7 separate regions of the Homo sapiens genome follow, and regions 2, 3, 4, 5, 6 and 7 are each linked to region 1. Evidence: fine-mapped expression QTL. A gene starts in region 1. Each other region holds a variant in brackets. All regions are shown on one strand. Distances are from middle to middle.

Region 1 (4,197 bases):
TTGGTGGGAGGAAAAAGCAGGTTTTAATTGGAGACCCAGCAAAGCGAGAAGATGCCCAACTAGCGTTCTAAAGTGTCACCTTGGCTGGGCGCAGTGGCTCATGCCTGTAATTCCAGCACTTTGGGAGGCCAAGGCAGGTGGATCACCTGAGGTCAGGAGTTTGAGACCACCCTGGCCAACATGGAGAAACCCCGTCTCTACTAAAAATACAAAAATTAGCCAGGCTTGGTGGCGGGCGCTTGTAATCCCAGCTACTCGGGAGGCTGAGGCATGAGAATCACTTGAACTGGGAGGTGGAGTTTGCAGTGAGCCAAGATCACGCCACTGCACTCCAGCCTGGGGTATAGAGTGAGACTGTCTCCAAAAAACAAACAAACAATAAATAAAGTGCCACCCTAAAATTAAAAATTTATCCTCAGGTTTTGTGTGTTTGTTAGTTTTTGAGGCAAGATCTCACTTTGTCATCCAGGCTGGAGTGCAGTGGTATGATCACGACTCACTGCAGCCTGGAGCTCCCTGGGCTCAAACGATCCTCTTGCCTCAGCCTCTTCAGGTGCACCACCACGCCCAGCTAATTTTTTTAAATGATTTTTTTTGTAGAGATGGGGTCTCTCTATGTTGCCCAGGCTGCCATCGAGTTCTTCTAGGGAAACTTGCCGTGGGCACCGTGGGGAGTGGGGTAAGGGCAGGGTCTGTGTCTTGTTCCCATGGCTGTCGTGGGCAGTTGTCGGTTAGGAGGGGTGGCTGTCGAGGATGTTGGACTAATTGTTGGCGACCCCCCGCCCCAAGCAGGAGCATTCAGCTGGGGTTCCGCGCCGGGAATTGTTTCAGGATGAGGGTCCCCTCTGGAATGCGCAGAGGGGCGCAGTGTCCAGAGAGGGACGGGATGAAGGGGTGAGAGGAGAAGGAAGAAAAAGAAAGTGGGTGATTTTAAAACGGAGGTCCCTGGTCACACCATGAGCCTCACAGATGGGAAAACTGAGGCACGGGGGATGGTGCGGACCGCCGTGGCCCCTCCATCATCAGTGACAGAGCGCTCCGCGCGGGGCCGCGGAGGTCCCTTAATCTGCAAAGGCCCCCACGCGGCGCGCTGACGACGTCCACTGCACCCGCCGGGCGCCCTCTGGGCCGCTCCCAGGCTGGCCGCCGGCTCTGCGCGGCCGCAGACACTGTCCGAGGTGCTGGGCGCCGGGGCGGGGGGCGCGCCTGTCCCGCCCCACTCGGCTGCTCGGGCCTGCCCGGGGTCTGGGCTTCCGGGAGACCCGCATGCGCCCCACGCCTGGCGGGAACCGAGGCCCCTCCCGCGTCTGTACCCGGCGCGCAGCGGCCCGAGGCGCCTCCCGGGGGCTGGGGGCCCGGAGTCACTGGGAGGCGCCACCGGCGGGGAATTCCGCACACGCCTGCGCGGGGCCGGCGGCGGCGGCGGGCAGGGCGGGGCCGGCGGCGGCGGCGGCGGGCAGGGCGGGGCCGGCGGCGGCGGCGGCGGGCAGGGCGGGGCCGGCGGCGGCGGCGGCGGGCAGGGCGGGGCCGGCGGCGGCGGCGGCGGGCAGGGCGGGGCCGGCGGCGGCGGCGGCGGGCAGGGCGGGGCCGGCGGCGGCGGCGGCGGGCAGGGCGGGGCCGGCGGCGGCGGCGGCGGGCAGGGCGGGGCCGGCGGCGGCGGCGGCGGGCAGGGCGGGGCCGGCGGCGGCGGCGGCGGGCAGGGCGGGGCCGGCGGCGGCGGCGGCGGGCAGGGCGGGGCCCAGGGCCCCGTGACCCGAGGGGCGACAGCGCGCGGCAGGCGGCGAGCTCGGGGGCCGCAGGTGCGAGCGGGCCTGGAGAGTCTCCCGGGGCGGGGAGCGGGCTAGGATACAGTGGGCCCCGCGGGCCGGCGGGCCGGGTCCCGGGGAGCGGCGCCTGCGTCCGGATGCCCCTCCCGGCCGCCTCTTCCTGCCGGCTCCAAGTTTCGGTTTCGCCGCCGGGGTGCCCGGTCCAGCCCCGCCCGCGGCGCCCACTGACCCTGTTCCCCGGCTGCGGGAGGGGTCGGGGTGGGGGCAGCGGGCACGCCTGGGACCCCGGCGACATCCCCGGAGCGCAGAGCGCGGAGGAGGCTTTGCGCCCCGGCAGTGCTGCCCCCGGGAAGTGGCCGGGGCACGGGGGGTGTAGTGGAAGGGGACAGCCGGACCCGGGCCTGCAGGTCCGCCCGGGAATCCTGCGCCTGTACGAATGGCAACAACGGAAAAGTGAAGTTGCAAAAACAGACTCCTAACTTTTACGAGGGAGGCATCGCCCCGTCTGAACCGCACCGCGCAGCGTCCTTCCGACTTGGCGAAGTCGCCCGAGCGCGGGGCTCAAGGCCAGGGTGGGCACCCCTCCCGGATGGCTGCCTGCAAGCCGGCGGGCCGGGCCCTGGGGGAGTCCAGGGCGGGAGGGGAAGGAGCTGTGCAAACATGGTGGTGGCCCTTCCCTGCCCCCACCTTGTTGACTTTGGTTGTGGTTGGGGGATGGGCTTTGATTTGGGTGGCAGTGTCTGTGCTTGGGAAAAAATGTCAGAGAAAAGACAGGAAGCGGATTGAATGCAACAGTGTTGGGTGCCTGGGGCTCTCTCTTGTGTCTTCCGGCCCCTAGAGCAGATGGAACAATAAGATGCTTTAGGGGGCCGGGCGCAGTGGCTAATGCCTGTAATCCCAAAACTTTGGGAGGCCAAGGCGGGTGGGTCACCTGAGGTCGGGAGTTCGAGACCAGCCTGGCCAACATGAAACCCCGTTTCTACTAAAAACACAAAAAATTAGCCGGGTGTGGTGGCGCATGCCTGTAACTCCACCTACTTGGGAGACTGAGGCGGGAGAATCGCTAGAGCCCGGGAGGCGGAGGTTGCAGTGAGCTGAGATTGCCCACTGTACTCCAGCCTGGGTGAAACTGTCAAACAAACAAAAAATGCTTTTTGGAGGATTTTTCGAGTTTTCTGGTCTGTGGTTCCCCAGTGTAGCATTGGAGAAGGAAACACTTCGGGTGGAAAGAAAGAGGCCTGGGCGGTGGGGAGTCATTGAAGGTGTTTGAGGGAGGGAGTGTCCACTGGTGGTTGTTTCAGGTAGAGTGTGGAGGGGAGGAGGTACGGTGGGAGCCAGGGCTTGGCTGTGGCAGGGGTAGGGGAGTTTTAAACTCTCCTTCTACTCTGAAGGAGAGATAATTTTAGTCTCTGGAATAAAAGGGCAGCAGACCTGGAGAAAAGGGATGCAAATTGTCCCATACACCTATTGGGAACCTCATCAAAGAGAAGACTGCAGAAGACAGATGATTGATGTTTTTATGGCATTGGGACAGGGGCTTGGGGCTGGAGAGGGGAGGTGTGCAGGGTTGTCTTGTTGTGCAGATAATCACTCAGGTGATCTCAGAGCTGCTCTCAGAGGAACTGGCGAGGCCGCAGGCACTCCTCTTGTGTGTCCCTGGGACCGTTCCTAGATCCCTCTAGGCAGATAATGGGGCCTCAGAGAGAGCTTCTGCTCCATTCTGCTGTTTCATGGTGTGGATTTCCTTTATAGCCTTTTACAAAAGGATAGCTTCCCAGAACTCCTGAGTATGTGGTTGCTCTGAATAGCCATCTCAAAATTGACCACAGAATCTGTTTTGGGGTGGCATAGATTAGTCTCCCACACAGGTCAAGCCAGGGAACCCCACCCAGTGCCTCCGTCCCTCGTTCAGGCCCAGCCTGAGTGAGCCCACCCCAGTGGGAGGAGAGGGCAGGGCCAGGGCAGGGAGGGGGCCTGAGTGTCCTCCTGGCTGCTGAAGGCACCAGTCAGCTGCCGCTCCAGCCACTGCCCCAGTGGAGTTCTTTGGTTCCAAGCCAGCAGAAGAAGGTGGTGGGTGGGCCAGTGTGCCCTGAGGCTTCTTACTGGGGAGGGAGAGAGTCAGGTCCTCCACTGTTAGGTGGCCAAGCGCCCAAACGCCATCTCCACTCTCACCCTGGATGCAAGAAGTGACCCCGGAGGCCTGAGTCCTGGCCTTGGTCTGGTTTGATGCCATCCACCGCAGAGGCTGTTCTGAGGGCAGGTGGTCAGTGCAGAGTGGCGCGCTTTGTGGATGGCAGCCTCCCCCCATTACTAGGAATCTGACTGCCAGCCCAGTAGCCCTGGGCTGCCTGCTCAGGCCCCATCACCTGTGGGGCAGGTGCTTTAGTCCCCTTAAGAGGATGAGGAGGGTGAGGCATCAGCAGGCTGAGCG
Region 2 (4,197 bases), 110 kb after region 1:
GGCCTGGACCCCGGGTCCCGCATCTCTTCTCCCGTCTCCCTCCTCGTTTCACCCTTGGGTTCCTTGGTGGGAGCCGAGTGAGTGAGTGAGTGGCGCCCTCTTTTGACAGAGCCCAGTGGAGTCGGATTTTCTCCACCGCACTCTTCGTGGAGCACGTGCTCCTAGGAACCGAGAGCCGCGTCCCCGAGTTACAGGGGCTGGTGACCGAGCACGTCTTCTTACTAGACAAGGTGAGTACTTGGGCTGGCCTCAGCACATGCACGGATCCACCCTTTTCCGAAAGGAAGAACAGCACTGACAGTGATCTGCGGCTGGGAGACGCTCTTTTGGCTCTGACCGTTTTGTCTAGACATGCAAAGGAAGGTGATTTCATCACTAGGCCATTACATTTTCCATGTTTAATTGTTTAATTATTTACCCTCTGCTGATTGCTAAGTCAGAGCATATCATTTAGAAGTGATTCCAGGAACTGTGTGCAGAAAGGGGCTGACGCAGGGAACATGCTTGTGAAACCTTCGGCAGGGATTACCTGGCCTTTGGAGTGACCCCAGAACAGACCACTAGCCTGGCCATCTGTGGAAGCTGTTACCATTTTCATAGTCATGGAGACAAGGATGTCAGAGAATGCCACCGGGGTTTGGGGTCTTCAAAACAGTGCTGTCAACAGAACCAAGGAACAGGAAGCCACCATGCCTGTCACTCAACACCCTTCATAAAGCTACTAATGTGGGGTGGTCTGCAGAAAGAAACCTGTGACCCTACAGTGATGCCCCTCTGTGGCCACGCAGTGGTGTCCAGCAACAGTGGCCACTCAGCCAAACACAGCCTCAGCCTCTGCCTCACCCGCACCCGTGACCTTCACGTGAGCACATCCAGAGCCCTCACCGCCAGGGGGTCTGGAAGAGGCAGCGCTGGCTGTCCGACCTTTGGAGCACAGGAAGGTTTACTAAAAGGAGGCCAGCATGGATGCTGGATGTGTTGACTCTGACCTATCAAAACATCAGCGGCTTAGACACAGTATCAGCTGATTTCCCACCCAGGATGGGTATGAGCAGCCCAAGGCTAAGGTACCAGCTCCCCGGAGGCTGGCACGGAGTCAGGTGCCCACGCTCCGTCTTGTCCCTTCATTGTCCCTAATGTTCAGCTTCCACCCCGTGGCCTGGCGTCACAGCCTGTGGGACAGAAAGCAGGGGAGGTAGAGGACAGGCCGTTTTCCTTAAGAGCCCAATCCCGGACACGCACACGCCACACCAGCTCGTGTCTCGTGGTCCTAAACTTAGGCACTCGGCCTTATCTGGTTGCAAGAAACTGAGGAGTTTTTCGTGGCATGGTCATGTTCCAGGTGGAACTTGAGTTCTTCTGCTGAAGGAAAAGGCGGAGAGAGGATAGTAGGACACAGCCGGTGCCCCCCTTCCACCCTTTTCCCCACACCCACACAGCATGCAGCCTCTCCAAGTCTCATCATGTCTCGGCGCTCTGGGAGATGCACAGGGCTTTCAGCCAGGTCCAGCGTGGGTCATAAGGGCCAGGTGCCCATAAACCCAAAGGTAAAGGAGCTGGCCCCTGCCTGCTCACATGCCCACAGGATTTGGGAGGTTAGGAACGTGGGGAGGGTTTTTTTTGGCGATAAAATGGCCTCAGAAACTTACTGGGTTTCTGGTTTATTTCCTTCCAGTCAGATCTCTGTGCAGGTAACCACAGCCAAAGACCTTACCTCGTTAGTTTTCCTGCTGGAAGCCTGACTTGTACCCCTACCCAGCCCCCGCTGAAGAGCAGCCCTTGGGACCATTTGAAACAAGAGGCTTGGGGGAAAGCCCTGCCTTCCGCCGTGAGGCTGGCTCCCTCGGCCGGGCAGGAAGTTGTCGACGGAACTGCTGCAGGATGGCACGGGTGGGACTGCGGGCATGGCTGGCTTTTAGTTGTTTTGGATATGTACCTTGAAGGGGAATTCCTGGATCATTTGATAACTCTGTTTAACTTTATGCAGAGGCACTG[T/C]ATTGTTTTCCACGGGGGCTGCAGCATCTTTCTTACATCCCCACCAGCCAGGCACCAGGGTCTGAATTTCTCCACATCATGGGCAACACCTGTTACTATCTGATTTTTTTCATAATGGCCACCGTGATAATTCATTGTGGTTTTTATTTGCATTTCTCTAATGACTAGTTATGATGAGCATCCTTCATGTGCTTGTTGGGCATTTGCTGTCTTCTCTGGAGAAATGTCCATTCAAGTCCTTTGCCCATTTTTGAATTGGGTTGTTGATTAACAAAGTTATTAGGATATTAAAAATACACACATCACTTCCAAGTAAGATTAATCCCAGCAATTCAAGGATGGCTCAAAATAAAAAAAAAAAAATCTGTAAATGTCATCAGTTATATAAATTAAAAGATAAACTCTATATGATCATTTCAAAATGTAGAGAGAAAGCATTTGATAAAATTATTTGGAAAGAAATACCCTTGTCAAACTTGGAACAGGAAGGAACTCTCCTTGAGCTCACAATGCCCAAGGTAGACATAATATTAAGATGTCTATACCAACATCATGCCTGCCCATCAAATTCCATTAGTACAGCCATTAAACTATCTTGTACAGTGATGATGTGTATTGCCTAAAAACCAGTGTTTCCACTTCTAACTATATCCTAGAGAAACTTCTCATTTGCTCTCAGACATATGCAAGAATGTTGAATACAGGACTGTCAGGAATTGCAAAAAACCTAAATGCCCATTAACCAGCAGACAGGTAACTGGTGTCTTTATCAGTGGGTACAGGAGTGATCTGGACCTAAGGTATCATGAAGAGAATGAGTTGCAGAAGCCTTTATACAACGTGGTATCATTGATATCAAGTTTTAAAACATTCAAAATAATAACTCCATGTTCAGATATGCTTACAGCTATCCTAAAAGCAGACATTTAGAAATATAGTTATCTCTGGGGAGGGACGGAGGGATGTGAAGTTGTAACTATATGCATAATGTTTTGTTTCTCTAAAAAATGATCTATCGCAGCAGCTTGGGAGGCTGAAAGAAAATTTTAAAAAATTTAAAAATTTTAAAAAATGATCTAAAGCAAATATTCCATAAATGCTGAGATTTCTTAAAGCTTGGTGGGGGGTATACAGATGGTCATTATTATTACTTAAAGTTTGAAATATCTTAGTGAGAGCGGAGGAGACCTTAAAAGAAAAAGAAGAGGGAAAATCGTAACTTGAGAATGTAGTCCCCTGACAAGCAGCATAATCACAAAACGAGCATTCAGAGTTCAAGCGTTAAACACAGGATCACAAAGGCCTCGCACCCCACACCCCACACACACGGCGCAGCCTTGGCCCTGAATGTGGTGCTCCCTCTGTCGCCCGGCCTGGCCGCCCTCAGCCCTCCCCCCTGCTAATGACTCCTGTCCCTGCCTTTCTTCAGTGTCTTCGAGAGAACTCTGACGTGAAGACGCACGGGCCTTTTGAGGCCGTGATGCGCACTCTCTGTGAATGCAAGGAGACAGCCAGCAAGACCCTCAGCAGGTGAGACCTTAGGTTTGGATCTGTGAAGGCGAGAATTCTGAACCTCTCGTGGTTTTCACTTCTTCTGGCCAGTTTCTCTGCTTCAGAACTGATTGCCCTTCTTGGATTCTAGGTTTGGGATTCAGCCGTGCTCCATCTGCCTGGGAGATGCAAAGGACCCCGTCTGTCTGCCCTGCGACCACGTGCACTGCCTGCGCTGCCTCAGGGCCTGGTTTGCCTCAGAGCAGATGATATGCCCCTACTGTTTAACTGCCTTGCCAGACGAATTCTCTCCAGCTGTTTCCCAAGCGCACAGGTACAACACCCTTTCTCTCAAGAAAGCATCCTTTTTTTCATTTTCCTTTTTTGGCAAACACAATATTCAGAAATATAAACTCTATTAACCTTCATTTGGTAGAAAACCTGACCTCAGAGAACTATCATAAGAGACGCCACTTACGTACTTTCATAAATATCTGGTATCTCAAGATTATTCTCTCCCCAAGACATACACATACAGATTTCAGACAACAAATTCAGAGGAACTAAGCCAGAAAGTCTTAACAAAGGTCCTCACCAGAGGCCCAAGGAATGTAGACGCCAGTGTTTTTTTTTTTTTTTTTGAGACAGTGTTTCACTCTGTTGCCCAGGCTGGAGTACAGTGGCACGATCTCAGCTCACTGCAACCTTCAC
Region 3 (4,197 bases), 34 kb after region 1:
GCACGTGGTGGCTGGGCGTGGTGGCTCACGCCTGTAATCCCAGCATTTTGGGAGGCCGAGGCGGGCGGATCACGAGGTCAGGAGATCAAGACCATCCTGGCTAACACGGTGAAACCCCGTCTCTACTAAAAATACAAAAAAATTGGCCGGGCGTCTTGGCAGCGGGCGCCTGTAGTCCCAGCTACTCGGGAGGCTGAGGCAGGAGAATGGCGTGAACCCGGGAGGCGGAGCTTGCAGTGAGCCAAGATCGTGCCACTGCACTCCAGCCTGGGCGACAGAGGGAGACTCAGTCTAAAAAAAAAAAAACATGTGATAGGGGATTTGACCTGGAGGTCGGCAGAAGCTTCCACAAGGAGGTGATGACCGAGTTGAGAACTAAACAGTTGCAGGCCCTGCTGGGCCCAGGGTGCAGAGCTGGGGTGGGCGGGCCTGCCAGTCTAGACAACTGTGGGTCGAAAGCATGGCAGGGGGCTGAGGAGGCCTGTCCGGGCGCTTCCCATTTCTGCCTGATTTTTACTTCTGTTTGTAGGTCTTCACGTGGCCTCTGACCCTGTCATTGACATCTTGGGTTTTCTAATTATTTTACAGTCAACCTCACTGGGTTTTCTGCAATGAGGTCTGCACTCATATCGTTTGCAATGGAGCCTAAGAACAGTCACGAATTCAGCCCTTGCCCTGTGTCAGCCACCATGCCAAGGGCCATCTGTGCCAGCTGGGCAGCCTGCACCTTCCTCCAGGGGCTGTGTCCCGTTCCTAGTACAGAGGAAACCAACTCAGTGATTGACCAGGACAGTGCTCACTTGCTAGTGGGGGGATGCGGTTTCTGTATGACACATTCCACCTCCTTGTGATGATGTTTAAGGAAGTTGTTGATCAAGTTTGCTGAGCTACATAGTTAGAGATCCGTTGCAAGTCTCAGGCCCGCTGCATCCCATGACCCTGGGCTTTCCACTCATTACTGTGGGACGTCTAGGATGTCTGTTTGCACGGGGCTGGCCTCAGATGAGAAGTCAGTTGGAGGAGTCTGGCTGTCGTCAGTGTGTGGGTTTTTGCTTTTCCCTTCCTCCCTTCCTCTGCCCCATTTACTCCATATCTGTACCAGTCGTGATCAGCCTTCTAGGCTAGTGTCTAGGTCTCCAGGGTTTTGATGGTCTTAGGTAGGCTCTTGTTCCTTCTGTCCCTCTTAGACTGGCATCAGTACTATGACATAGTTTATATGAAGCCTCATGGGAGACTCCAGAAAGTCATGAACCACATCACAGACGGGCCGAGGAAGGACCTGGTGAAGGGGAAGCAGATTGCCGCTGCGCTCATGCTGGACAGCACCTTCAGCATCCTGCAGACCTGGGACACCATCAACCTGAACAGCTTCTTCACCCAGTTCGAGCAGTTTTGCTTTGTCCTGCAACAGCCTATGATTTATGAAGGACAGGCACAGCTGTGGACCGATTTGCAGTACAGGGAGAAAGAGGTATCAGGCTTGCCACCAGCTGCTCTACCTGCTGGGCAGGAGCCACACCTGACCTGCTAGTGGCCGGATGACCCCTTGACTCTGTGGGCCAGGTTGCAAATGGGAATGTGTAGAACTTTCCAGCCTTTTCTCCTACCACTGTCTCTTGGGATTTCTCTGCCCTCCCCCATTTTCCTCCTTTTACTGGTTGTAATCTCAGCCCCACCCCAGCACCAGTCCTGAGTCCTCCCCTGGCCTTGGAGGGAGAGTGGAAGGAACGGGGCACCCTCTGTCACTGCACCTTTACCCACACTGCGGTGCAGCCTGGGTGGGTTTCAGGCCGGCCTGGAGCTGTTTCTGAGCTGAAGCTGAGCCCTGATGAGCCTCAGGGGCCCTGCCTGAGCCCTCATGCCAGGGTCTTGGCTGCACTGCAGCTCCTCCTGTGGCTCTCACAGGTGTGGTGGTGGGGCACGGATGGGGTCTGCTGCCCTAGCTGTGGTGCTGGGGCAGCTCTGGACACTGCCGGTGAATTCAAGTCCATGGTTCATGCATCTTCCTCTTCTCCCACCATCAGGTGAAGAGATACCTGTGGCAACATCTGAAAAAACACGTGGTACCATTGCCGGACGGAAAAAGCACGGACTTTTTGCCTGTGGACTGCCCAGTGAGGAGTAAACTGAAAACAGGCCTGATTGTCCTTTTTGTAGTGGAAAAAATTGAGCTTTTATTAGAAGGCAGCCTGGACTGGTTGTGTCACCTCCTAACCTCAGATGCCAGCTCACCAGATGAGTTTCACCGTGACCTAAGCCACATCCTTGGGATACCTCAGAGGTATTATTATTTTTTGTCAAAATGTTTTTTATAGCTATTATAATGATTTTCTCTGATTGCAAAAATAAGTGCTTGACTAGAGTGACTGAAAGCACACAGGCAAGAAATAAAACCACCCGTGATTTTACCACTCACTGTGGTCATGTCAGTAGTTTTTCCTAGCATCTGTCTTATTTTTATTATATTC[T/C]GTCCTCTGTTGAATTCCCTGCCTTTTGTTTTCCCCCCAGACGGCGTCTCACTCTGTGGCCCAGGCTGGAGTACAGTGGCGCAATCTTGGCTCACTGCAGCCTCCACCTCCCAGGTTTAGGCAATTCTCCTGCTTCAGCCTCCTTAGTAGCAGGGACTACAGGTGCACACTACCACACATGGCTAATTTTTGTATTTTTAGTAGAGAAGGGTTTTCACCATTTTGGCCAGGCTGGTTTCGAACTCCTGACCTCAAGTGATCCACCCACCTCGGCCTCCCAAAGTGCTAGGATTGTAGGCGTGAGCCACCGTGCTGGGTCTGAATACCCTGCTTTTTGAAGCTTCGTGTGGTATCATGAGCAGCCTCTGTGTGCGCGTGTTTAGGAGGTTGTGGCGTGACGCCAGCCTGAACTCATCCCCTCAAGGACATCTGCAGAAGCAGCGTGAATGTTCTCCCCATGCCCCTGCCTGTGCCGTGTCTAGTTCAGGAAACACAGTGTGACTGTCCTGGGCCTGAAATGTTCAGTGGTGAGAAGGCGATGGCCTTTGACTTGGTACCTGCTCAGACCCCACTGAGCTCTGCACTCTCTCTGCGTGTGTTGATTTGAACGTGAGAATGACATTAGGTAGCCTTTCCTGACCAGCATGTCTTATCACGACATCTGCCTCTCAGTTTTACACATTTATTTATTTGTTGTTTTGAGACAGTGTCTTACTCTGTTCCCCCAGTCTGGAGTGCAGTGGAGCAATCAGCTCACTGCAGCTTCAGCCTCACAGACTCAGGTGGTTCTCCCACCTCAGCCTCCTGAGTAGCTGGGACTGCAGATACACACCACCACTTCCAGCTAATTTTTGTATTTATTGTAGAGACGGGGTTTCACCATGTTGCCACGGTGGTCTTGAGCTCCTGACCTTGTGATCCGCCTGCCTCGACCTCCCAAAGTGCTGGGATTATAGACATGAGCCACTGTGCCTGGCCTGGTTTTACAAATAAAAAACAACCAAATAAACGCCGCACATTTTGACAAAGAGGAGGAGTGGAGGCAAAGGCAATGTACAGAGTTAGTGCCGGGGCTTAAAGTATGAGGAATCATTAATATCTTTTGACTGTAGGAGATTCACCATGTATTGTTTATAGGCTCAACCCTTACGTTTAAAAAGTTGTTTTGGGGCCGGGCACGGTGGCTCACGCCTGTAATCCCAGCACTTTGGGAGGTCGAGGCAGGCGGATCACAAGGTCAGGAGTTCGAGACCAGCCTGACCAACATGGTGAAACACTGTCTCTACTAAAAATACAAAATTTAGCCGGGCGTGGTGGTGCATGCCTGTAATCCCAGCTACTCAGGAGGCTGAGGCAGGAGAATCACGTGAACCCAGGAGGCGGAGGTTGCAGTGAGCCGAGATTGTGCCACTGCACTCCAGCCTGGGCGACACAGTGAGACTTCATCTCAAAAAAAAAAAAAAGTTGTTTTGGCCGGGCATTATGGCTCACACCTGTAATCCCAGTGCTTTGGGAGGCTGAGGCAGGAGGGATTGCTTGAGCCAGGAGTTCAGGATCAGTCTGGGAAACAAAAATTAAAATAAAAAATAGAGCCGGCCAACACAGTGAAACCCTGTCTCTACAAAAAATACAAAAAACTAGCCAGGCATGGTGGCGGGCACCTGTAGTCCCAGCTACTCGGGAGGCTGAGGCAGGAGAATGGCGTGAACCCGAGAGGCAGAGCTTGCAG
Region 4 (4,197 bases), 91 kb after region 1:
TGGGTTTGGATTCTGTGCCGTTGTGTGGCAACTGCACCGCGCTGAACATCGCAGGTTTCTAGGATCTGTCTAAACCTGGCAGCAGACTTGCAACCTTTCCTTGAAGTCTGGCAAGTAATTTGCATTTCTTAACTCTGTAGATCACCACTTTCTCCAGGCTGCTAACAAGTCACGACTGTGAAATTTTAGAATCAGAGGTCACAGGCAGGGCTCCGAAACCCACACTCCTGTGGCTGCAGCAGTTTGACACCGAGTACTCATTCCTCAAAGAAGTCCGGTGAGGTTCCCTGCCTTCCCTGCTGCCCTCTCCCTCCCCAGCCGCAGCCGTGTGGCTTCTGCGTGGCGATGGTACCCGCGCCGGTTAATGAGCGCCACAGTCACGTGACTGTGAAATAGATCCTTGTTAAATCTCTCCCAGCATCCCTCTCATCTCCATCATCTTCTGCAACGCGGTGTCTGGCCTAACATCCTCCTCCGAGAGCACCATCCTCGGACCTCGTTAGGAGGCATTCCTTGGGTTTCCTCCCCTGGACTATCTGTTCTTACTGAAGAAAATCCTACCTGAGTAGCTGTTTCTTTGTAGCCTTTATGTTTCCCATCACTTTGGGGAATTTTCTTTTCCATTTTTTTAAGACAGAGAACTCACTTGAATAACTTCCCTTTTCTTTCAGAAACTGTTTAACGAATACAGCCAAATGTAAAATCCTCATTTTTCAGACAGATTTTGAAGATGGAATCCGTAGCGCCCAGCTCATTGCCTCAGCTAAGTATGTTTTTAGTATTTTTCTCAGAAACTATGTAAAAAACCCAAAACGTAGGAAGTCCTAGAGAATTTTTTCCTTGAAGACAGTATAGTATCATAATCAGTATAGAAATAAAAATAACAATTCTTCCCCCGCCTCATTCCCCCAAGTGGGATTAGGGAAACTGAAGAGAGACAAAAAGAAAAGGCCAATAACATTACAAAAATAGTGGAATGGGCCTGGGCAACAGAGCAAGACCTCATTTCTAAAAAAATAAAATAATTAGCCTTCCACAGTGCACCTCTAGTCCCAGCTGCTCAGAAGGCTGAGGTGGGAGGATCGCTTGAGCCTGGGAGGTCAAGGCTGCAGTGAACTGCGATCCCACCACTGCAGTCCAGCCTAGGGGCCAGAGCAAGAGCCTGTCCTCCCCACAAAAAAGGTGAAATGCGAGAGGTGTAAATAATGGAACATTAACAAGCTATAAAAGGATGCCTTTGAAGCCTGTGTTTGTAGACATGTTTTGGTCATTATTAATTTTGAATTATACAATTTGAATTTATTTCAAGTTCGAGGGAAACAACAGTAGGTAAATGCTTTTTTTCCTATTTATTGGATATTTTTATAGTGTTTGTAGGGGAAGTCTGATGCTCTTAGAATTAACTTTGTGCCTTTATTACTTAAAGTAAAAGTGATTTCTGGACCTTTTTGAAGCATTGGATGCCATATTTCAGTTCGTGGCTTAAATCTCAACAAGAAACTGGCTTTGGCCATTGGTCATCTGAAGGGAATGGCATTGCGCACAGAACTCTTTGTTGAAATGGAAAGGTCCACTGGGTACAGGGGCTGTTTCCTGTAATCCTAGCTACTTGGGAAGCAGAGGCAGGAGGATCGTTTGAGGCCAGGAGTTTGAGACCAGGCTGGGCAACACAGCAAGACCCCCATCGCTTAAGAGAAAAGAAGGAATGGAAAGTTCAGCTGTCCTCACCCTTAGCTGCACCGGGGCAGGCCCATTGAGGAGCACAAGATAGGGTTTCTGGTCAACGAAGGAATGCCACTTCAAAGCAGAGGACACAGGAATGGGGAAGAAAACGAGCCGCTAAGAGAAGATTTCTCATCCCCTTGTGAGAGAAGAAATCACGATCGCAGGGCTCTGAAGTTTATGTAAAACTCATCGGAACGGGTGGCCGTGAGACCGAACCAACAGCTCGGAGAACACCCTTCTGCAGCTGCACAGCTTTGCTTTGTTTATTTGCTTGTTTTTGTGTGTGTGTTTGTTTTTAAAATAGGTATTCTTTTTTTTTTCTTTAAAT[A/G]GGTATTCTGTTATAAATGAAATCAACAAAATACGAGAAAATGAGGACCGTATCTTCGTCTATTTCATCACAAAACTGTCCCGGGTGGGAAGAGGAACAGCCTATGTGGGCTTCCACGGAGGTGAGATCAGAACATCAGTCAGGGTATTTATTTATGTATTTATTTATTTATTTGTATCTATTTATTTTTTGAGATGGAGTCTTGCTCTGTCACCAGGCTGGAGTGCAGTGGCGCGATCTCAGCTCACTACAACCTCAATCTCCTGGGTTCAAGCGATTCTCCTGCCTCAGCCTCCCAAGTAGCTGGCATTACAGGCGTGCGCCACCATGCCCAGCTAATTTTTGTATGTTTAGTAGTGACGGGGTTTCACCACGTTGGCCTAGATGGTCTCAATCCGTTGACCTCATGATCCGCTCGCCCCAGCCTCCCAAAGTGCTGGGATTACAGGTGTGAGCCACCGCACCCAGCCCAGTCAGTGTATTTATTTAAGTCATGTTGGAACTGTTTCTCATTTGGTTCTGTGTTGTACAGTCTGAAATTAGAATATTATTGTTAACCTCAAGAGGATTCTTTCCAGATGCAATTAGATTTCTTACCACTGATTACCATGAAAACATGAATCCTGGGATGGGAGGCTGCGTGCACCTCTCCTGGACTGACTCTAGGCAAGCTCCTCACCTCTTAGCATGTAGGTCACACGGCGTGGAGACTCCCGACTCCCGACAGACACTGTCAGGAACGCACCGATACGCCTGTTTGGCGGGGAGGGAGAGTGGCGGGGGTCGGACTATCTTCAGATCTCTTTTTTTCCAAGGAATGGTCACCAGCTATTTATGACATAGAAAAGTTGGTATTCCAGAAACAGGAAAGTAAGTTTACTTGAATAATTTCGTGGAGAATGGAAGGCAGACCTTGCCAGTGTCCCCCACCCCTCACTAACTGTGATACAGCAAATACAACAATGCATGGGTGAAAGAACCACAGGCCTTATCCATGCGTCCTTCCCACGCTGGCCATTGCAGGTCTTACCGTTGCTGCTTATGGTGAAGCTGTCGATGGGCATAGAATCGGGTCGTGTATAGTATCGGGTTGGGTGGTTTCTGCGCAGGCCCATTCCAGGGTTTCGGCTTCAGGGTGCCAGTCATTCATTGCGCAGCAAGATAATGACAAGCCAGGGTGTGCAATGTCCCTGCTTAGGGCTGAGCAGCAGCCGGGAAAGACACAAAGACAGTTGTGGGTGGCTTCACTCTTCACAGGGCTGTGGCAGTCTGTCCACATCGATGACCTCCGGAGATCCACCCTCATGGTTTCTGATGTGACCAGGCTGCAGCATGTCACCATCAGCCAGCTGTTCGCGCCCGGAGACTTGCCTGAGCGTGAGTCACGAGGCGGAGCCCCTGGGGGAGCAGGTGGTGGAAGGGCAGATGGCAGGTGTGGAGCGTGGCGTGCACATGGCACTAGGAGCAGGGCCACCGTGTTTCGTCCCTCGGCAGGAGCTCGGGGACACATCTGCAGAACTGACTGGTGGCTCATCATAGAGCACCAGGGCCGAGCAGGTGCGCTTACCACAGGCTGAGGTAGAGCTCTGTGAGCAGGCCAGCCATGGAAGTGAGCACCTAGAACACGCCAGAGCCCAGGCTGGAAGGAAGGGGCTGCCTTGGGGGCTGATCTTCATGACCGTGATCTCTCATCTGGGGACCTAGCACCACAGCAGGGGCCGGGGAAGCCTGCACTCGGAGGCTGAGCACACAGACTCCCAGATGGCACCGCTGCCAGTCCCTGTGCCACCTTCTGAGTGGTAACGCAATCACGTTTGCTTCGACTGCAGTGGGCTTGGAACACCGGGCGGAAGACGGCCATGAGGAGGCGATGGAGACGGAGGCCAGCACATCAGGGGAGGTGGCAGAGGTGGCAGAGGAGGCCATGGAAACAGAAAGTTCTGAGAAGGTGGGAAAGGAAACCTCTGAACTCGGAGGCAGTGATGTAAGTTCTGGTTCTTGGGACCTCCCCTTGTGCTGCTGGTGATGCTTCTGAGCTGCATCTTTAAACGCTTTTGCATTGGGAGCTAGAGGAGTCGCCGCCGCTGTGCAGGGGTGAGGATGGCGCCCCACTTTCCTCACACAGTGACGGTCTTGTTGCTGGT
Region 5 (4,197 bases), 25 kb after region 1:
ACTCCAGCCTGGGTGACAGAGTGAGACTCCATCTCAAAAAAAGAAAAAAAAAAAAGCCTTTGAATTGCAAATAATGGAAAGCCCAGCTCCACCTTTCTAATCCCATTGAGGAAGTTTATTATGGACACACCTGATGAGCCCCGAGCCTGTAGGTGAGGCTTGGTGCAGGCGTCTCCGGCCCTGTCTACTCTGCCTTCCGGACGGCTCCCCCACTGAGCCTCTCATCAGCTGTTTCCCGTTACTCCCTCGTGCCACACAGTGGCTTCCCCTGTGATCCACCTGCTACTCTGTCCTTCAGGGGACAAGACAGCGCCTCCTCTGGTGATTGATTCCTCTGGAGAGAGGAAGCGCTTCCTCAAATCTCATTGGCTCTGATTGGCTCACAGGCCAATCCCCCAGTGGGTCCCTATGGCCAGGATGATAGACATCAGTGGTTGACACCAGCCCACGCACAAGAGCTGCCCTTGGGGCTAGAGTAAGGCTGATGTTACTCAAACCATGCAGCCGATAACAGGGAGAGCCAAGGGACCATTCCCCAGGATGGGCCATCCAGCGCTGTCACCAGGTGGCCACAAACACCTGCTGTGTGTGGACAGTGACCATGACCACAGCATCACTGATGGGGGCCTTGCGTGTACCAGGCAGTGTCCTACAACTCTCCGTGTGCTTTGTCCCATTTGGTCACCCTCAGTGATGCTCTGATGTGGACACATCTGCTGTCTCCACTTTAAAGATGGGGAAACTGAGGCCCACGGTGGCTCAGTGACCCACCTGGGGTTGCCCAGCCATTGTAGCATGGGGTGAGCTGGATGGGAACTCAGGCAGGCCCTCTAAACCCAGCCCAGACGCCACTGCATGGCAGCCCCGGAGGTACCAGGCAGCTGGCCGGGCAGGGACGGCGTCATCGCCTCTCCGAGGGGAGGCTGTCTTCAGGGCTGGGACCCCACCTGCCAGGTCTCCTCAGCACACTGAGGACGATGGGTGCCTGCAGTGAAGGGTTGTGCAGCACCTGCCTGTTTCTTGACGGCCTCTTGCTTCCCCCTCTCAGCAGGTCCCCCGGCAGCTGACCAGCCTGTCATTCAGAGGCTGATACCTGCTGATGACGCCACTCTACAGTGCTGGGCCCCAGCCCCAGACTCTTCTTCTGCAGCTGCTTCTGCAGTTGCTTTTTTTTTTTTGTGAGATGGAGTCTTGCTCTATTGCTCAGGCTGGAGTGCAGTTGCGTAATATCGGCTGACCGCAGCCTCTGCCTCCCGGGTTCAAGCAATTCTCCTGCTTCAGCCTCCCAAGTAGCTGGGATTGCAGGTGCCTGCCACCACGCCCAGCTAATTTTTTGTGTTTTTAGTAGAGATGGGGAGGATCTCACCATGTTGGCCAGGCTGGTGGCGAACTCCTGACCTCCAGTGATCCGCCTGCCTCGGCCTCCCAAAGTGCTAGGATTACAGGCCTGAGCCACCGCACCTGACCTATTGTTTTATTTTTGAGATGGAGTCTCACTCTGTCGCCCAGGCTGGAGTGCAGTGGCCAGATCTCAGTGAGGCCCTGTTTTAGAGTCAGCCTGCGCTGGGAGTGAGTCTCCTCTGTCCACACCCAAACGCACCAAGTGTGCCATTTCAGCAGTGGTGCTTGCTCCCTGGAATGGGACCAGGTGCTCTCAGCGGTGTGGTGGGTTGGTGGCCTGGGGTTGGTGTCGGACGCAGGCC[G/A]GTGTTGGACGCAGGCCGAGCGGGAGGCTGGAGCCAAGCTGTGGCCTGGGGAGATGTTATGGGTCGGAGGGTCGGGGGGTGGGGGCGCCTCCTGTGCTTTGTGTACACTGAGCATGGGTTTCCTCTGAATTTAAAAAGGAGGAGAAAATCGGAATTTCTGGCCCTGGTTCTGGCAGGAAGTGTGGCCATGTGTGATAGAGAAGGGGTTGCAGTGTCGGCCTGGCCTCCTGGAAGCCCTGGGATGCAGCCCTGTCCAGCTGCGGCCTCGTCATGCCCTGGGTGGGTGGGAACGCAGCCTCCTCCTTGGGCCACACAGGGGCCGACCGTCAGCCGAGGGGCTCCTGAAGTGGCAGTGATGGGATCCTGTGGCGCTTCCTCATCCCCTTGTTACCAGTTGCTGAGGAGAGGGTGGATTAGCCCCTGGGCTGCACCTCAGTGTGTGCAGGTCTTCCCAGGTATGTGGGTGCAGGAGGTGGGGGGCGTGGAGTGGGCACAGGTTCACACCTGCTGCCTGGCAGTTTGGGGCCCTCATCACACACCACCAGGTTTCAGGGGATCTACAAGTCACTTTCCTGTACTGACCTGATCCACACGCACCCCTGAGTACTGCCCCCTGGGAGATGCCTGTGGGGTCCCAGGGTCCTGGCAGCCTCCTCCCACCAGCCGCAGTCCTGGTTCCAAAATGGGGACCGTACACCTGAACCTGGATGTGCCTTTGAGCCTGGCTGTGCCTGCTGAGGGTGCGGTGGGAGCTGCTACTCATTTTTTAGTCTCATCCTTCTCATTTCAAATTTTATGTACGAAATATTTTTATAGAGGTGCATAAAACGTGGAAAGCCTGTGTGTGCTTTCTAATGTTCAAAACCAGGCCAGGCACGGTGGCTCACGCGTGTAATCCCACACTTTGGGAGGCCAAGATGGGAGGATTGCCTGAGCCTAGGTGTTGGAGACCAGCCTGAGCAACATGGGAGACTCTGCCTCTACAGAGCATTTTTTAAAACCAGCTGGGAATGGTGGTTCGCGCCTGTAATCCCAGGACCTTGGGAGGCCGAGATGGGCAGATTGCCTGAGCCTGAGATTTCAAAACCAGCTTGGGCAACATGGTGAAACCCCGTTTCTACAAAAAACAAACCAACAAAAAATTAGCTGGGCGTAGTGATGCTCACCTATAGTCTCAGCTACTCAAGAGGTTGATGGGGGAGGATCACTTGAGCCCAGGAGGTCAAGGCTACAGTGAGCTGGGTTTGCACCCTGCACTCCATCCTGGGCGACAGAGGGAGACCTTGTCTCAAATAAATAAATAAATACAAATCCATCTCAGTGGATGTCCAATAAGCAGTGAGCCCGTGTGAGGGTCTCAGCCCGGCCGTGACCGTGCCGAGTGTGGCGAGCGCTTCAAGGCCACTTGCCCCGACCCTGCCCACCCCCCACTTTTGTTTCTTAATTTCATTCTTTCCAGGAAATTGCAGATTTAACAGATGTTAGGTACTTTGGTCGAGCCAAGCTTGATGTAGTTGAGGAACGGAAGAGAAAGTTGGAGGGAAACACGGGCTAGAGTAGAGTAAATCTAAGAAATAAAGTGAGTGTCTCTCTTTCTGTTTAGAGCAAAAAGAAGAAAAGGAAGAAGAAAAAGAAGGGGAACAAGTCCGCTTCCTCAGAGCTGGCTTCCTTGCCCCTTTCTCCTGCCAGCCCCTGTCACCTGACTTTGCTTTCAAACCCGTGGCCTCAGGACACAGCCCTGCCCCACAGCCAAGCCCAGCAGAGTGGCCCCACTGGCCAGCCGAGCCAGCCCCCAGGCACAGCCACCACGCCACTGGAGGGTGACGGCCTCTCCGCGCCCACCGAGGTTGGCGACAGCCCCCTGCAGGCCCAGGCTTTGGGAGAGGCAGGAGTGGCCACAGGAAGTGAGGCTCAGAGCAGCCCGCAATTCCAGGACCACACGGAAGGGGAGGACCAGGACGCTTCCATCCCCTCTGGGGGCAGAGGCCTGTCCCAGGAGGGGACCGGTCCCCCCACCTCTGCTGGTGAAGGCCATTCTAGGACTGAAGATGCTGCCCAGGAGCTCCTGTTGCCTGAGTCAAAAGGAGGCAGCTCTGAGCCCGGGACAGAACTGCAGACCACCGAGCAACAGGCAGGGGCCTCAGCCTCTATGGTGAGTCATCCGGGAGAGATGGCCTGGGAGTGGCACTGAGCCCTCGGCACCTGGGCTCTGCTGCAAGGTGCTGGCGTTGCTTCCCTGCCGGGGGGAGGGGCGTCCTCTGGGCCCTGCTCCCTGGGTGGGAGTCGGAGGGCTGCCCCTCCACTGGGGATGCCAGCCCACCCTGTCCCTCGGCTTGTGGCAGATGCTGCCCCTTAAACCATTGAGTCGGAGTCACCCTGGCCCATTTTGTCACCTTGGCTCTGGTGTTTGGGGTCTTTCAGGCAGTTGATGCTGTAGCTGAGCCAGCCAATGCAGTTAAAGGGGCCGGGAAGGAAATGAAAGAGAAGACCCAGA
Region 6 (4,197 bases), 150 kb after region 1:
AGCCCTTCTTTAACTCGGTGTCTGAGGGGTTTTGTCTGCGGCTTGTCCTGCTACACTCTGGTGGGAAAGACACCGCAGCAGGGGAGCAGGGTGCGCAGGGTGCAGTGGGTGACGCTCATTCGCTGAAAACTGACCCTGCTTTCAAAGCCTTGTCAGTTCCCAAAGCTGTATGAAGCCTTTCCTGAGCCTCAACCTCTAGAGTCTAATTTCATCCTCTGTATTTTCCCCTTTGTTAGTCCAAACTGCGTCATTTTGTAAGCCCCTTTCCATTTTGTAGACCTTGGTCAAAGTGAAACATTCCACGGGGGTTCGAGCCATGAGAAACAGCCTGCCTCTTAACATATTCTGCTGGGACAAAGCGCCAGGAACACCACATTCTGCCGGAACCACCTCATCCTGGGAACACGTTAACATCTTCCCGGACAGCAAGCCATACTGCCTAGATCCCTCCTGCCCAGGCCTATGAGTACCCCAGCCTGTAATCGCTGGTGGGCTCTGGCATTAAGCTGGCCCCCGACAGGTGTTTGCAATACACCTGTGTTGCTGTAGAGCCGCCCGCGCGCCGGCAATCTCACTGTGCGTCATTCTTTAACCTTCACCTTCCCTTCAAAACCTAACACCCTTGACGTTTATATTCAGGCTATTATATATACATACACACATACACCCTTCTGAATCCTCCCAGGAGAATATAAAACCATGGGTTAAACTGCTACACTTCAGCTTCAGTGGCTGCCTTTCAGTGCTTCAAATACACCAACCTCTTTCCCACCCCGGGACCTGCACGAGAAAGCTGCTCCACTCACCCGCCGTGCTCTTTCACTCACCCTTCAGGTGTCTTCAATATCGCCTCTCAGGCCTTTCCCAACCACCGGTTTAAAGTCGGCTCCCCACAAATAAATACATATTCTCCCTCACAGTACTTCGCACAACACCTGGCACAGCGAGAGCACTGAACCAACACTCATTCAATGAGGAACACGAGGTAAGAACCAAGACCCCCCAAGGTCGCCGTACTTTGTCTGGTAGGAGAAGCTTTCTGCCCAGCAAGGTCCGACCCAGATGAAACCCCGTCCAAGTCTGCAGCACCCCCGTGAGTCCAGCCCGCTAAACTGTGAAGAATTTAAATACACGACACCTGCCCTCAAAAGCTTGAGGGCACCCCTGAGCTGCCATCGAGGTGGGGGCGTCAACGACAGGCGCTCAGTAAGTGCTCCTGAGGCAACTGCCGGGCTGTCCTGGACCTGGTGAATCCTTTCGGGGTTCAGCAAAGGCGGACGCTGACCGGGCCAAGGAGTGGGACCTGCAGTGCTGGACCACCCTTTTCCAAGCGCAGAAGTGCCGTGCCCGCCGGCTCTCAACAGGGCAAGAGGCCCCTCTCGCCGTGCAGAGCGCAGCGCTTGCGGCGGGGACAGCAGAGGCGGGACGGGCGTCACGGAGTTCCCGGGTCCTCGCGCGGTCACTTACCTGGCCTCAGCTATCCGCTGAAAAAGGGGCGGACGGCCTCCCGGGATCCGAGCCGATATCGCGCGCGGCGCCGCGGGGCAACCTGAAGCCGTGTGCGTGCGTGTGCGTTCACGCAGGGGCTCACCCAGCGGCCACGGGCTTCTGAAGACCCGGGTGGGAAGTGCGGCCCGGGAAAGCGCAAGCGTCTCCATGGCAACGAGGGCGGACGGCGTCAGAGCGAGTCGCTTCCGGAAGTGACGTGCGGAAGGGGTGCCCGGGACGAAGCCATGGCCCTGGAGGCGGCGGGAGGGCCGCCGGAGGAAACGCTGTCACTGTGGAAACGGTAATGCTGTCAGGCGACGCGCAGGAGGCGGGGGCCGAGGCCGGGCGGCCCTTCGCGGACCCTCCGAGCTCATAGTCTTCAGGCTGTGGAATCGGAGCTGCCACCGCCCGAGACTCCAAAGCAAAGCCCAGTTTCCGGCGCGGAAGCGGAGGGATCTCAGGAATTGTAGTCCGCGGGGTGGGCGCGGTTCTCGCTTCCGGCCAGTTTGTCTGGCCTGCGCTTGCGCGGGTCTCCGCCGCCTGGGCTCCTAGGGACTGTGGCCTCGGCGGTATGTCCCTTGCTTTCCCTTGAAGCGGGAGAAGACCCGGCAGAGGCGCTCTGTCCGCTGCAGCCGCGCGGGTGGAGGAGGCAGAGTCTGAGGTGTGACCCCGACCAAGTTTGACGCTTCTGTCCTCCTAGGGAGCAAGCTCGGCTGAAGGCCCACGTC[G/A]TAGACCGGGACACCGAGGCGTGGCAGCGAGACCCCGCCTTCTCGGGTCTGCAGAGGGTCGGGGGCGTTGACGTGTCCTTCGTGAAAGGGGACAGTGTCCGCGCTTGTGCTTCCCTGGTGGTGCTCAGCTTCCCTGAGCTCGAGGTAACCTGGGAGGACGCCGAGCTCGAGGCGGGCCCCTCGGTGGGCTCGGGCGTGCGGTCTCCGGGACAGGGAGCAGTGCAAGCGTAGAACCCGGCTTCTCGTTTTGTAGGATGTCATTAATAGTCTGGGGAGTTGGCCGGGCGCGGTGGCTCACGCCTGCAATCCCAGCACTTTGGGAGGCTGAGGCGGGGGAATCACCTGAGGTCGGGAGTTCGAGACCAGCCTGACCAACATGGAGAAACCCGGTCTCTACTAAAAATACAAAATTAGACGGGTGTGGTGGCATATACCTGTAATCCCAGCTACTCGGAAGGCTGAGGCGGGAGAATCGCTTGAACCCGGGAGGCGGAGGTTGCGGTGAGCCAACATCACGCCATTGCACTCCAGCCTCGGCAACAAGAGCGAAACTCCATCTCAAAAAAAAAAAAAAAAAAAAAAAGTCTGGGGAGTCTTGGAAGGGAAAAAAAGGCAAAAATTAAGGGAATTCTGTGACTATTAAGAATCAGCTCATGAGCTTTATCTTCAAGTCTGATTGTTATCTTGGGTTCTTCATCTCAGTGACCTGTCCACCACGCTCCCAGTTGCCCAAGCTGGAGATCTGCATCCTCCTGGGCCCCTCCGTTCCTCTCGCGTCCAGTTGCACACTAGCTCGCTTTTATTCTGCCTCTTAAATGTCGCTGGAATCTGTCCCCTTGTCTGTTTCCCCTCTGCTCCTTCCCTGGCTGTGCCACCATCACTCCTGTGGGTTCCTGAGCAGCATTTTCATGGGTGCCCTGGCTCAAATGTTCCTCCTCAGTGGTTTCTTTTCCATACTGCCAGCAGACCAATTTTCCTAAAAAGCAAGTATTTTCCTCAAAAGCAACAAGTCCCCTCCCTCCCTCCCTCCCTCCCTTCCTTCCTTCCTTCCTTCCTCCCTTCCTTCCTCTCTCTGTCTCTCTTTCCTTCCTTTCCCCTTCCCCCACTCTGTGCCCAGGCTGAAGTGCAGTGGCATAATCTTGGCTCACTGTCAAGATCTGATCTCAACCTCCTGGACTCAAGTGATCCTCCCACCTTAGCCTGAGTAGCTAGGACCACAGGTGTGAGCCACTACACCCGGCTTATTTTTTTATTTTTTGTAGAGACAGGATCTCACTATGTTGCCCAGGGTGGTCTCCAGCTCCTGGGCTCAAGGGATCCTCCTACCTTGGCCTCCCCAAGTGCTGAGATTACAGGTGGGAACCACCACACCCAGCCCACAAGTCCTCTTAGAACATTGAAGTGCCCTTCTCATGACCTCATGGTGAATAAAGTTCACTCTGGTTGGCATGGCTTCAAGGCCCGTCATGACCTGTCCCCTGCGTAATTTAATATGACGCTGGAGGCTCAGCCCTCACCACTATTCTCAGTTCTTCCCACCTCCTACAGCCCACTGTGAGTCCCTCACGTGTTTGCTACGCTGTATTTGGCGGCCTGACCTTTGCAGTAATGTTTCTTCTGGAAGGGTTTCCATCTGGCTAACTACTACTCATCTCTTTGGGCTCAGTTTAGACATGACGTCCTCCACTAAGCTCCCTCTCATCCCACAAGACGAGGACTTGTCCCTCAGCACCATGTCTTAGTCCGTTTGGGCTGCTGTAATAGAATACCTTAGACTGGGTGGCCTACCCACAGCAGGAATTTATTTCTCACAGTTCTGGAGGCTGGAGGCTCAAGATCAGGGTGCCAGCGCAATCAGGTTGTGGTGACGGCGCTCTTTCAGGTTGCACAGGGCCAGCTTCTTAACCGTGTTCTCACATGGTGATCCACTCACCTCCCTAGAGGCCCCACCTCGTAATACCATCACCTATGGGTTATAATT
Region 7 (4,197 bases), 110 kb after region 1:
GGAATAATATTTCTCTTTCTGCAGCTTTCATGATGTAAAAGATTATATTCAGGAATATTTGACCCTGTTAAAAAAGAAAGCATTCATAACTGAAGATAAAACTGAACTGTACATGCTCTTCATCAACTGCCTGGAGGTAAGTGAACTCTCTCTTCCCTGAATTTCTTTTGGAAACTATCTGAACCACATGGTTTAAAATTTACAGAATATAATTTTAGTCAGTATAATTAACGAATGCTCTGTTCCGTGCAGAAAAGAAGAAAGGTTTCAAAGACGCGGCTTCTGCCTTCAGCAACGTATATTTTGGCATTTACTTGCATATACATACAAAACAGAACAGCCTAGGAGAATATACTGCCAAAGTTAACAGTGGTTATCATTGAGTGGGGACATTATGGATACTTTTTATCTTCATATTTTTATATCCAAAATTTTTATAATGTAAATAAATTAGATAATTTTTTTTCCTCATAGGTTCACTTTTCCCCTCCTTCTTGTCCTTAAAATAAAAAGGAATGTTAGGTTTCCATAAGTCAAGAAATTTACACTGAAACCTACAGTAACATTCTTCTATCCTTCCTTCTCCACAGTCACATTGGCGACTGTAGAAGCTTGGGGCATCCATGTTTAAAAAAATAATATCCTTTTCTTTCTTGTTCCTTGTTCCTCAGGATTCAATACTTGAGAAGACCAGTGCTTACTCCAGAAATGATGAACTGAACCACCTAGAAGAGGAAGGTCGTTTCCTTAAGGCATATTCTCCAGCAAGCCGGGGCCGAGAGCCTGCCAACGAGGCCTCGGTTGAATACCTGCAAGAGGTGGCCCGGATCCGCCTCTGCCTCGACAGAGCTGCAGATTTCCTCTCGGAGCCTGAGGGAGGCCCAGGCAAGTCTTCTCTGCCTTGCTTTCCTTTGGGTTTAAAGACTCCGTTATTTAGAAATTCAGGAAGTATGGGAAACTAGTTCTTCGAATAGACTACTACTGGGCTTTTCTACATCCCCTCTCCCCTGGATGTGTTTCTGTGAATGCCTGTGGGTAGGTCCGATGCCCTCTGGTTGGCCTTGTGTCCTACAATAAATGCCCTAAGTCACCAGCCACTCACCCGCTTTCTCGTTGGCCTCTCAGAGATGGCCAAGGAGAAGCAGTGCTACCTGCAGCAAGTCAAGCAGTTCTGTATCCGGGTGGAGAACGACTGGCACCGGGTGTACCTGGTGCGGAAGCTCAGCAGCCAGCGGGGGATGGAGTTCGTGCAGGGCCTCTCCAAGCCCGGCCGCCCGCACCAGTGGGTGTTTCCCAAGGACGTTGTCAAGCAGCAGGTGAGAAGCGGGGCCGGGCAGCACACAAACATGCACCCCCACAGCCCCATACACCCCAAACCCACACACCCCCCTACCCTCACACCCTACCCCCCCCACACCCCACCCCCTCACACCTTCCCCACCACATACCCTCATACCCCCACACCTCACCCTCACACCCCCACACCTCACCCTCACACCCAGGGATGGTGCCACTGCTTCCGCGTTCCGCCTGCCCTTAGCATCCCCAGAGCCAGGAAGGAAACCTGCCGCTTGTCTGTCTGGTCCTTTGTCTCTGTGCTTCAGCTGATTTGCCCCAGCTTGTGATCATGTTTACACTGCCTGCTGTAGGGCCAAGGTGAGGGCACTCACCTCAGAGCTTCTTTAATTAGGCATCACTTCTAATTGAATTTCACTCAAGGAAAGTAGAACATTCTTGTGGCCTTTGCTTTCAGCGAATTAAACGTAGTTCAGCTTGCAAGGTGCGACCTTTTTACCTCTGGCAGGCAGAGACAGGCAAGAGCAAGAACTAGGAATAGAAGAATTGCAGAAGAGGCTTCAAGGCCAGGCTGGGCACAGTGGCTCTCACCTGTAATTCCAGCACTTTGGGAGGCCGAGGCAGGCGGATCACTTGTGGTCAGGAGTTTGTCAAGACCAGCCTGGCCAACATGGTGAAACCTTGTCTCTACTTCAAAGAAAAAAAAAATTAGCTGGACATGATGGTGGGTGCTTGTAATCCCAGCTAGTCGGGAGGCTGAGGCAGGAGAATCACTTGAACCCGGGAGGCAGAGGTTGCAGTGAGCCGAGATTGCACCACTGCACTCCAGCGCCTGGGCGATAGAGCGAGACTCCGTCT[C/CA]AAAAAAAAAAAAAAAAAAAAGAGGCTTCAAGGCCTCTCAGTGGTCCTTTCCAGATACCCAGAAATTAACAAATTCTTATTGTCCAGGGGATACAAAAATGGTACTAAGAACCCCGGCACTGTTTGACTACCACCTGGGGTTTAGAGTTGACATGACTTGAGCCACCCGGCCTCAGGTGTGGTGCGGTGCGCCGCAAACGGAGGAAGCAAGCACCTCCCCAGGTAGCGCTGCCGTCGGCAGGCATTCCCTGCACTTGCACCTCTTCGTCTACTGAGGAGGAAGCTCCCTGCGAAGAGGGCACCAGACTGTCCTGCCTCAGGCCAGGTCAGGGAATCCCAGCTTGGCTGCCTTTAAACCTCGAATGATCAACCACCTGGTTCCTGTACCCGTTCAGACGGTTCTTTGCAAGACATTCCTCCCATTGTTCACCCCCAACTAACCTCTGTATTCCAGGGGCTGCGGCAGGACCACCCAGGCCAGATGGATAGGTACCTGGTGTACGGCGATGAATACAAGGCTCTCCGTGATGCTGTGGCCAAAGCTGTCCTCGAGTGCAAGCCACTGGGCATTAAGACTGCTCTGAAGGTAGGATGGGCCCGTGGCTTCTCTCTGATACCAGGTGGCATCCCTTGGAGCCTGCATGTTCCCTGGTTTATGTCAAATGATGCAGGGTGATGGACCACTGATGCAGCCCATCACGTGACACTGTATTGGAAGTCACGTGCCCACAGCCTCCAGGGCGCACCTGGCTAGTGTGCGTGAACCAGTGGCTGGAACAGGACAGCTATGACAGTTGAGCTGGGTTGACAGATTTGCTGTGTCTTGCTGATCTGCCAAGTCCATCAGCAGCGCCTTTTGATTTATGCCCATTACTTCCTTTGAGACCCTGCTGGAAAACAGTCTAAGAAAGATGCTGACACAACTATTAATAGCAAAATTCATACCTAGATGTATTCATAATTCAGATATGCATGTGTGTTTAATAAAAATACATATGTTGGTGTAGTGTGGGAAGTTAAAAAATATAAAGATGTTTTTAGAATCTAACCTTTAAATTGGTCTGGTCTTGCTTCCTTTTTGAGTCCCTGTGCCAGGAAAAGAGGAAATGGAAAATCCTCTTTCTGCTCAGAAGTTTCTAAGACCAGTGAAGGAGTCAGAAGAACAGATGGTGATTCCGTTGCTTCTGTCATTAAGCTGGCTGCTAAATATGCGTTGAGTTTAATCTGAGAGTATTTCAGGAACTTTGTAGCCCAAAAGTTGCTCGCCAGAAGACTGCCCATGTGGGGCATGACCCCAGGTGTCCAGGCCTGGAAAAGGCTCCTTCCCTTTTGGTGGGTTGAGGGCTGAGGCATGTGAAAAGTTTCTTTTCACATGCAAACTTCGTGGGCCTCTGGCCCTTAGGTAGATCTGGCAGGCAGCGGTGCGGGGGCGTCTATCCTATAATCCTAGCACTTTGGGAGGCCGAGGCATGCAGATCACAAGGTCAGGAGTTTGAGACCAGCCTGGCAAACATGGTGAAACCCCGTGTCTACTAAAAGAAAAAAAAAAAGAATTAGCCGGACATGGTTGCGTGTGCCTGTAGTCCCAGCTACTCGGGAGGCTGAGTTAGAATCGCTTGAACCCGAGAGGCAGAGGTTGCAGTGAGCCGAGATCATGCCACTGCACTCCAGCCTGGGTGACAGAGCAAGACTCCATCTCAAAAAAAAAAGATGTGTTGAGCTTTTAAATTCTTACTTGATACCCTTGATTTTGCAGGCCTGCAAGACCCCCCAAAGCCAGCAGTCAGCCTACTTCCTGTTAACACTGTTTAGAGAGGTGGCTATTTTGTACAGATCCCACAATGCAAGCCTCCACCCCACGCCAGAGGTGAGTAACCGCCTGCAGGGCTGTGTTCAAAGTCTCAGTATTTGGAGGGATTTTATTGAATAGAATGAAAGTTATCAACACAAATCATACCATAATTTTTTTATCTAGGATAGAGGTTCTCAACCTTGTTATGTGGAGGAACACATAACCAAGCTGTTTAACCCAAAGCTTGTAGA

Direction of the effects. Positions count from the first base shown, and alleles are read on the strand shown. Sizes are in standard deviations (SD) of each study's normalised expression. Not every link is listed here.
For the expression in monocytes of the gene that starts at base 1,749 in region 1, T is the high allele of the variant in region 2 and C is the other (large effect, 0.87 SD a copy in Fairfax 2014).
For the expression in monocytes after interferon gamma of the gene that starts at base 1,749 in region 1, C is the low allele of the variant in region 7 and CA is the other (large effect, 0.81 SD a copy in Fairfax 2014).

Evidence for each region. PIP is the estimated chance that this variant, and not a neighbour inherited with it, causes the effect.
Region 2: its variant is fine-mapped to the expression of RNF213 in monocytes (Fairfax 2014, PIP 0.95).
Region 3: its variant is fine-mapped to the expression of RNF213 in tibial artery (GTEx, PIP above 0.99). The same link has a PIP of 0.9 or more in atrial appendage, breast, coronary artery, esophagus muscle, thyroid and tibial nerve.
Region 4: its variant is fine-mapped to the expression of RNF213 in whole blood (TOPMed, PIP above 0.99).
Region 5: its variant is fine-mapped to the expression of RNF213 in lung (TOPMed, PIP 0.92).
Region 6: its variant is fine-mapped to the expression of RNF213 in testis (GTEx, PIP above 0.99).
Region 7: its variant is fine-mapped to the expression of RNF213 in monocytes after interferon gamma (Fairfax 2014, PIP 0.95).

What each region holds. Positions count from the first base shown.
Region 1 is chr17:80,259,104-80,263,300 of GRCh38, forward strand. RNF213 (ring finger protein 213) reads left to right here and starts at 1,749. Exons shown (of 68, transcript NM_001256071.3): 1 at 1,749-1,799. RefSeq lists silencers at 1,128-1,477, 1,757-2,106, 2,487-2,626.
Region 2 is chr17:80,364,324-80,368,520 of GRCh38, forward strand. It overlaps RNF213 (ring finger protein 213), which reads left to right. Exons shown (of 68, transcript NM_001256071.3): 42 at 110-230; 43 at 3,425-3,525; 44 at 3,638-3,820. All of the region lies in intron 1 of RNF213-AS1 (RNF213 antisense RNA 1), which reads right to left. Among named protein-coding and RNA genes, the nearest start is that of ENDOV, 49 kb to the right of the region's middle. The variant T/C (reference allele first, on the strand shown) is at 1,996.
Region 3 is chr17:80,293,533-80,297,729 of GRCh38, forward strand. RNF213 (ring finger protein 213) reads left to right here. Exons shown (of 68, transcript NM_001256071.3): 9 at 1,188-1,471; 10 at 2,025-2,281. Among named protein-coding and RNA genes, the nearest start is that of RNF213, 35 kb to the left of the region's middle. The variant T/C (reference allele first, on the strand shown) is at 2,469.
Region 4 is chr17:80,349,630-80,353,826 of GRCh38, forward strand. RNF213 (ring finger protein 213) reads left to right here. Exons shown (of 68, transcript NM_001256071.3): 30 at 141-277; 31 at 672-767; 32 at 2,056-2,174; 33 at 3,311-3,430; 34 at 3,883-4,037. RNF213-AS1 (RNF213 antisense RNA 1) reads right to left here. Exons shown (of 2, transcript NR_029376.1): 2 at 2,201-4,197. Among named protein-coding and RNA genes, the nearest start is that of ENDOV, 63 kb to the right of the region's middle. The variant A/G (reference allele first, on the strand shown) is at 2,054.
Region 5 is chr17:80,284,509-80,288,705 of GRCh38, forward strand. RNF213 (ring finger protein 213) reads left to right here. Exons shown (of 68, transcript NM_001256071.3): 4 at 3,307-3,855; 5 at 4,125-4,197. Among named protein-coding and RNA genes, the nearest start is that of RNF213, 26 kb to the left of the region's middle. RefSeq lists an enhancer at 226-786. The variant G/A (reference allele first, on the strand shown) is at 1,704.
Region 6 is chr17:80,413,462-80,417,658 of GRCh38, forward strand. ENDOV (endonuclease V) reads left to right here and starts at 1,706. Exons shown (of 10, transcript NM_173627.5): 1 at 1,706-1,789; 2 at 2,189-2,360. The coding sequence starts at 1,734. It overlaps RNF213-AS1 (RNF213 antisense RNA 1), which reads right to left and starts at 1,707. Exons shown (of 2, transcript NR_029376.1): 1 at 1,468-1,707. RefSeq lists an enhancer at 2,139-2,228. The variant G/A (reference allele first, on the strand shown) is at 2,217.
Region 7 is chr17:80,371,850-80,376,046 of GRCh38, forward strand. RNF213 (ring finger protein 213) reads left to right here. Exons shown (of 68, transcript NM_001256071.3): 47 at 25-136; 48 at 672-885; 49 at 1,126-1,316; 50 at 2,609-2,740; 51 at 3,911-4,021. The region is part of intron 1 of RNF213-AS1 (RNF213 antisense RNA 1); the gene reads right to left. Among named protein-coding and RNA genes, the nearest start is that of ENDOV, 41 kb to the right of the region's middle. RefSeq lists an enhancer at 1-1,118. The variant C/CA (reference allele first, on the strand shown) is at 2,155.